Regions from separate parts of the Homo sapiens genome. Here region 2 is linked to region 1. Evidence: fine-mapped expression QTL. A gene starts in region 1. The other region holds a variant in brackets. All regions are shown on one strand. Distances are from middle to middle. Region 1 holds the start of IL13RA2 (interleukin 13 receptor subunit alpha 2). Region 2 overlaps LRCH2 (leucine rich repeats and calponin homology domain containing 2).

Evidence for each region. PIP is the estimated chance that this variant, and not a neighbour inherited with it, causes the effect. A credible set is the group of variants that fine-mapping cannot tell apart.
Region 2: its variant is the best candidate, but not a certain one, in a credible set for the expression of IL13RA2 in thyroid (GTEx, PIP 0.71).

Annotation. Positions count from the first base shown.
Region 1 is chrX:115,015,633-115,019,878 of GRCh38, forward strand. It overlaps IL13RA2 (interleukin 13 receptor subunit alpha 2), which reads right to left and starts at 1,984. Exons shown (of 10, transcript NM_000640.3): 1 at 1,921-1,984; 2 at 1,544-1,670; 3 at 38-189. The coding sequence starts at 1,637.
Region 2 is chrX:115,169,977-115,174,222 of GRCh38, forward strand. LRCH2 (leucine rich repeats and calponin homology domain containing 2) reads right to left here. Exons shown (of 21, transcript NM_020871.4): 6 at 323-456. Among named protein-coding and RNA genes, the nearest start is that of RBMXL3, 17 kb to the right of the region's middle. The variant T/C (reference allele first, on the strand shown) is at 2,139.

The DNA of each region.
Region 1 (4,246 bases):
TGATCACTCTGATACGGCAAATGCATGCTTTACTTACCTTCCATGTTTCACTACCAATGTTTCGGTATTTTAGTTCATATTCCACTGTGCATTCCTTAAAATGATCCAGAGACAGTGGGGGTTGCCATTGCAAATAGAGATAACCTAAGTATCCGGGATCCACTATCTCAAAATCCTGAGGAGGGTTAACTGAAATAAATCAATAAAACACTTTTATTTTTTCTGTATTTTATGACAAATATTGCTAAATCTAGATGGCTTCCAAATGTGCACCAATTGATTAACAGATAAACAAAATGTGCTACATGCATACAATCAAATATTATTCAGCCATAAAAAGACATGAAGTACTGATTCATGCTACAACATGGATGAACCTTGAGAACATTATACTAACTGAAAGAAGCCAGACACAAAAGACCACATATTGACATAGTTCCATTTCTATGAAATTTCAAAATAGACAAATTCATAGAGAGAGAAAGTAGATTCGTGGTTGGTAGGGGCTGGAGGGAGAAACAATGCAGGGTGACTGCTTAATGGGTTTAGGGGCTGTTTTACGGGTGATGCAACTATTCTGGACTTTGATAGTGGTGATTGTTGCACAACTTTGTGAATATACTAAAAACCAACGTATAGTAAAGAGTTTTACTATACATGTATAGTTTTAAAGAATATAGTTTTGTATAAAGAGTTAGTTTTGTGTAAATTATATCTCAGTAAGGCTGTTAAAAAAATCTAGATTACTGCTATATAGTTGTTCCTTCTTTGAGAAATCACATATGCAAAATGTGACTTTGCCTCACTAGGTATTAATTTTTAGAGAAGCAAAAAATTCAATGTGGCTTTATCTCTGTGCTCATGTACGCCAGAATTTGGTCTAAGATGGGAACATTTTATTACAAAAATCTGTCTAACAATAACAATAACAAATAAGAACAACAAATAATAACAAATAATAACTAACATATCACTATAATATAAATATATGTATTTAATTATATTAATTATAATATAATATATAATATAATAATATACTATAAATAATTTTAATTAATTAATAATAAAACATTAACATTATATTAAATAATATAATATAATTGAAAAATTAAATAATTCTAATTATTTTTAAATTTTACGTTAAATTTCTGTACCTTTTTAATGTATCTAATTGTCATAAAAGCTAAGGATAGTAGCTAAGGATAGTAATTAAGGAACTGTTCCAGTTAGTTTAGTACCAGGCAATGAGGTTTCAGATACTTAATCTGTTAAAAAAGACTATACAAAAAGGTATGGAGAGTGTTTTTAATTTGGCATTTATCGCACAAAATGTGTGTCAACATCAGTTACCTTATACAAGAAAGTGACTAGTAAGAACATAGCTTTTTTTCATGAACTTCCTGAAATAGTTTCAATAACAATTCATCTACTAGTTAGTTATGCACTTCCATAAGGCAGGTCAAAAAGACAGTTAATTTTCCATTAAAATCCATTTAATTTTACTTTTCCTAATTTAAAAACTATTCCATTAAAATCCATTTACCTTTTATCTCGGTGTCTGAAGATGAAGTACAGCCAAATGTTGTGCTTATCAGAAAGGTATATAAGCATCCGATAGCCAAGCAAACGAAAGCCATTTCTCCGAGATTTAAAACCTTGATATTGCCTCTCTATGAAGGAAAAATATAACATTTTAACTTTATCTTACATCAAATAATCAAACTAAACGTGATTAAAAATACTTTGGAAAGCTCTCTGTGTGCTTCTCTACCAAGAACTGGGAAAACTGTGTCCACCTCAGACCATGGAAACAGAAATAATCAAGTTAGGAACCAATATAATTGGAAAGAAAGGATTCTAGTCTCATCCTGCTTACAAGAATAAAAACAAAGCTAAGCAAAAACCCTTGTAGCTCCTCACCTCCCCGCCGACAGGCACACTTCTGACCAGGTTATGGCGACTTCAAATAGCCTTCATCCGGAAGACCGTTAGACTCACGAGAGTGTTCTTACTGGTTCACAATGGAGTTATGATATCATCCATCTCCATAGCAACCGTCTCCCCTAGCAACACATAAAACACAGTCAAATACTCTTTTCTGAGGGGAAAAAAAGAAAAAAGAAAAAGAAAAAAGTATTTGAAAGTTATTTCGGCCGGGCATGGTGGCTCATGCCTGTAATCCCAGCACTTTCGGAGGCTGAGGCGGGTGGATCACCTGAAGTCAGGAGTTTGAGACAGCCTGGCCAACATGGTGAAATCCTTTCTCTACTAAAAATGCACAATTAGCCAGGCATGGTGGCGGGCGCCTGTAATCCCAGCTATTCGGAAGGCCGAGGCAGGAGAATGGCTTGAACCCGGGAGGCGGAGATTGCAGTGAGCCAAGATCCCACCATTGCACTCCAGCCTGGGCAATAGAGCGAGACTGTCTCTAAATAAATAAATAAAATAAAATAAAATAAAATAGAAAGTTATTTGACCACTGAGAAAGCTCAGAACCTAAACCGAAGCCTCAGAGAGTTCAAAACTTTGCTCTGTTTCCTCATAAATATTTCTTTTTTTAGTTTAAAAAAAGTGTTTATTTAGCTCTTTCGCCCCCTGCTGGACGATTGACTTTCTTCTTTGCTCCTTTTTTCTTTTAATTACTTCTTTTAATTAAAATTTTTTATTTCCATCTACTCTCATTATTGTTCCACTTTTTCCTGTGTTTCCTTTATTAGTAAATGGCATCGCCATCCTTCCAGTTGCCCAAACCAGAAACCTGGGAGTCTTCCTCAACTCCTCTCCCATCTAATCTCTCCATTACCACTACCACTTCCTAAATGGAGGATCTTAGCAGGGATCTCCTTATTCAGTCTTTCCTGCCTCTGATCCATTTTCCACACCATATACAGCAAGAGTGACCTTTCTAAAGGGCAAATCTGAACTTTTCATCTCTTTCTTAAACTAAAACAGCATTTCATTGCCATAGAATACAATTTAGTCATCTTTCTGTTCTTGGATATTGGTTCTTGACGGATATGATCAAAATTTAAAGGATTCATGCCTTCAAATAGCTACTCAATTAAAAATACTTTGCTTTTCAGGAAAAACTACTACTCCCAATTCCATACACTTCTCTTCGAATCTATATTCTGGAACCAACAATTTCACATAAAGTAAAGGATTAAAAGTCACTCAAAAGAAAAGAAGGGACTGCCCTTCTTTTCTTGTGCATAGATTAATTCAATAGGACAGACCCTCTCTTCCACCCCACCCTCTTCCCCCTACCTGATCCATCTGTAATATTGTAACTTTGGTAAGCCTCAATGGCTACTTTATAGAATCTTAGGATCAAATTTTTAGAACCAGTATGTATATTACAGACAAGGCTAGTCAAATTCTCTTTTATAAATTGGGCAGTAAAACTCAGACTTGCCCCACCCAAGATTACACAGCAAATTAGTAACAAAGCTGGAAGTAGAACAGAGATCTCATGATGCCCAGTCCTGTGCACTTCCACCCCATTCTGCTGGGTCCCACAGGCATGACTCAGGATTATGAACGCTTTTCCTCTGGAACCCCAGTGTTTAAATCTTCCTTTAATTAGCAAACCAAGCTGAATCAACACCATGTTATTTTAAAAATTCTGCGCCTCATAAAATCAGGAGAGAATGTCATTTCTCTCACTGAGGCCCAACAAATCTCTCTTTCTCCCCAATTCCTCTCTCTTTACTTGCCAGCCAATGGCTGCCCACTAATGCATCTGTAAGTACTAGGTAGATTTGGCTAACAGAAGGTTATGGATCTTCCACAGAGCTACCCTCAGAGATTAAGATGAACACACTGGTTACTACTGGGATCAGGGCAATAGGTCTGACAAAGAGAAAACCTTCCATATTACCTTTAAGGACTAAGGGCAATCAGGCTGCCCTTACAATGCTCTCAGAGAGATTCTAACAAAATTCTCTCTCCCCTATCGATCTGTCCTTTAAGATTTCGTAGCATTATGTCATGTACAGCATAAATGCTAAGTAAAGAGTTTAAAATCATTTGCTTCTATTCCATTTATAGGCTATGAAATCTGACTCAGGCTATCAAATAGCATTTCATGGATCAGACTGATCAATATACCCAAGCAAAGGTGGAAAATGGGATAACTAGCTTCTAGCATCACTTATGGATAAACCCACAAAAGGAGTTGCTGAATTACACCTAGGGCCCAACCAAGACTTTCTTACCCAAATGAACACAAAGACAATTCTCTCCT
Region 2 (4,246 bases), 150 kb after region 1:
TACTTGTTGTTACAAATGTACAATACAGTGATCACAAAATAAATTAACAGTTGTCACATGCTGAGAAATTAGTGTTTCCGTAATATAATGTCAAACATTTACATTTTTACTACTAAAACTTTAATGATTGAGAAAATGTCAAAAATATTCTAGTATCCTAGAACTTCATTCTATGATGGTGATATGTAGCTTCAGCCAATTATTTATTTTAGTGCTGGACCAATCAGCCTAAATATATTCGGAACACTCAAGATTAATAAGTATATTTCATAAAAAGAGAAGACAGCAATCATCAAATGAAACTGTAAGAATGTTACATTACCTGTCTGTGAGAGGCTGTGAGGGCATTCGTTTACTCAATGATGGAAGATCCAGGGAATCTGGTTTCTTATCCATTCTGCAACATGCTTGAATATTTAAGTACTTAAATATGTGCACCTTACCCTTTAAACATATCTGTCAATAAAAAATAAAGATTTAATTATATAGTTCCAAATATAAATGACATCTATCATTTTAAACCATTCAATAGTCTCAAATTACATTGAGACATCACAATCTTGATTGATACTTTGCATATTTAAATAATTTGTACTTCTGACACCAGGTGGAAAAATCTGACAACACTGATACCAACTAAAATTCTATTGCCATCTCTGTTCTTATTGAAAAAAGTTAATTTTTCTATATTTCACTAGAGTTTTCTTGTCAAAAGCAGAATGTACAAACTATTAAACAATATGAAGTTTACAACTCATAAAAGTGGCCTTTATTTGAAAAAATGAAAAATATATATTCATTGGAATGGTAAGAAAAGAACAAATAATCTATGTGATTCTTTAAAGTAATCTCATCAGAACCACTAAGATGTTTGGCATAAAACCTGGAGAAGGCTAACATAAAAAATATAAATATAGGAAAAATGAATTTTTTGAAAGGTACGATATTAGGCTGGTGAGACTGAAATAATAAAAGAAAACACTGGTCAATTCAACTAGAATAATATCCTAAGAAATTACTTTCGTTGGCCATAGAGAAAATGAATAATGAGGAATAAAATACTATGTGAGCAAAGATACTCTGTATAAAAACAATAGAAAATGAGAGGTAAGAAAACTGTAAGTCAGCTTTATCAAGGTTAATTACAGTCACTAAGTGACATCAAATAAATATTTCTCAAAATTCTAATAAAAAATGTAACATTTTATGGGCTCACATAAGCTTACCTCACATGCAAAAAAATCAGCAAAGAAAACAGTAAGACAACAACATTAAAAAGCAATTATCATTCCAGGTCCAAAGGAAGAATGTTTCTTAGATAATTCTAACAGATACTAGGTCTGACTTGACCACTGAAAAATTTCATTTAAAAGGAAAATTAAAACTTTTGAGCTATTAGAATATAAATATATTGCCAATTAAATGTTGTAAATATCATTGATTTTTCTATTAATTATAAATTATTAATATTAAATACTATCAACTAAAATGTGCTAAAATTAAAATGTGAGGTAGTATTCTATTATACGTCCAAACTAAACAAAAATTTATCTTAATTACCAAATTAAGTGCTGGTAAATCACTCTCTTGTAAATTTTAACTTTTTATCATAGTACTTCATGTACACAGTTTTTAAATTTAAAAATAATTACAAAGCTGACAAGACATAATCCTCAATTCTACTTCTCCTTTTTTTTGTTTTTTTGTTTTTTTTTTGCTTGTTTTTGGAAAACAGCGTCTCATTCTGTCGCCCAGGCTGGAGTGCAGTGGCACAAACATGGCTCACTGCACCCTCGACATCCTGGGCTCAAGTGATCCTCCCAGATTAGCTGGGATGAAATTACAGGCACACACCACCATGCCCGGCTAATCTTTCTTATATTTTGCAGAGACAGGGTCCCACCATGTTGCCCAGGCTGTTCTCGAACTCCTGGGTTCAAGTGATCCTCCCACCTCGGCCTCACAAAGTGCTGGGATTACAGGCATGAACCACCGTGCCCAGCCCATTCTAATTATTTCAATCTCTAAGATCAAATTCCCACTTTAAACTCTTTTAGTTTAATTTCTATTTGCCCTCATATTTATTAATAACATGCTTCTACTGCTATTTGTTTTAAATTTTCCAATGGTAGATTTAT[T/C]GGAGTATCACTAAGGAAGATGAGGACTTGGATTTCTTACATTACCCACACCACCACCACCATCCCAGCCTCCCCGCTTCCTATCAATTCACATAAACATACTTCTCTCTTCAGAAGTATAACATAGTGGTTAAAGAGCATGGACTCTGCAGTCACACTGCCTTAGGTTGAATCCTGGCTCTAACCCATGCTAGCAATGTGACCTTGAACAAGTCATTTAACTTCTATGCCTCTGTTTTCTTACATGTAAAATGAGGATAATGACAGTACTTGTTTTACAGGGTTAACATAAGAATTAAATGAGTTAATATATGTAAAGCATTTTCAACAGTGTCTAGAACACAGCAAATACTATATAAATCTCTGCTATTATAACTATGTCACAGTTTTTCACTAAATCAAAATCTAGTGTTTATATTATTATGACCAAGAAAATATTCACAGATAAACTCTACAGAGTAATATGATTACATTTCCTTTCTCCTGTAAGTTTTTGTTTTTCCTAAAGTAATTAATGGCCCCATTTTTTCTTTTGAAAAATTTTCTATATGCCTATTATAAATTCATTCTTGACTCTGACAGAAGTATAAAACATCTCTCCATGTGGACAAACGTATCAAATCATCTCTTACTTTCTATTTTTTTTTTTTTTTTTTTGGAGACAACTCCTGTACTCCAAACTACTGACTGGCTGCTTACTAGGCCTATGCATATCTGTCAATCTCAGACAAGAAGAATTCCCCTTTTTTTAGTTTACTCCCTCACTTTGGTATAGTACACCCTCTGCTAGCATCCTAAGAAAGGGTACATGGGAGTAAAAATTTCTAAGATCTTGCATGTTTGAAACCTTTTTCTACCTCACATTTGATGACAGTTTGAATGTAGAATGTTAGAAATACTCCCTTAGTCCTCGAAGGTATCATTCCAACATCTGCCAGTTTCCACAACTGCTGCTAGAAAGCCATGCTGATTAGCACTCCTATGAATATGCTCCATTTTTCCTCTTTATTTTTTCTTCGAGCTTTATTAAAGTATGAGTTACAAATAAAATTTTTTTATATTTAAGTGCCATGTCCATCCCGCTGACCCTGACCCAATGACGGATGAAAGACGTACACTGACACAGATACTTTGCCTGTCAGTCTGGCTAAGGGGCTCTGCTGCCTGAGTCTGCAGCATCTGCCTCGATAAGCCGGGGAAGTTCGCATTTATTTAGTACTGATTAAATTACAAAGGTCTCGAGTAAACACCGCTAGAAGGTAATTAACACTGCCAACCCCTCGAGTAGAGAGCAATCATGCACTCACAGATGATAAAAGGTTGGGCTTAGGGCCACATGAGTAAACAAGCTATTTAGATAAACTCCCTTACATTCCTTTGTACCTACTTTAAACTATTAACTCAAGGTAAGAGGATTAGGCTGACTTCAGCTGAACTTTTTACTGAAGCTATGCAACCCCCCCAGCCTTCCAAGAAGGTTTGTGTCTATTTCCTATAACTATCTTCATAACTTTTCTTCTATAATTTTTCCCACCACCCTGACTGAACTCCCAAATTTAAGGTGTACAACGTGATGCTTTGATATACAGTTGACCCTTGAACAACACAAGTTTGAACTGTGCAGGTCCATTATACATGGATTTTCTTCCACCTCTGCCACTCCTGAGACAGCTAGACCAACCCCTCCTCTTCCTCCTCTTCAGCCCTGTTCAATGTGAAGACCATGGGGATGAAGATCTTTATGATGATCAACTTCCACTTAGTGAATGGTAAATATATTTTCTCTTCCTTATGATTTTCTTAATAACATTTTCTTTTCTGTAGCTTACTTGATTGTAAGAATACAGTAAATAACATATAACATATAAAATATGTGTTAGTCAACTGTTTGTTATTGATAAGGCTTCCAGTCAACAGTAGGCTATTAGCAGCTAAGTTTTTTGTGATTCCAAAGTTATACATGGATTTTTTACAGTATGCAGGGTTCGATGCCCCTAACCCTCATGTTGTTCAAGGATCAACTGTATTATACATTGTGAAATGATTACCACAGTCAAGCTAATTAACATGCCCATCACCTCATGTAGTTACCTTGTTTGTGTGTGTAG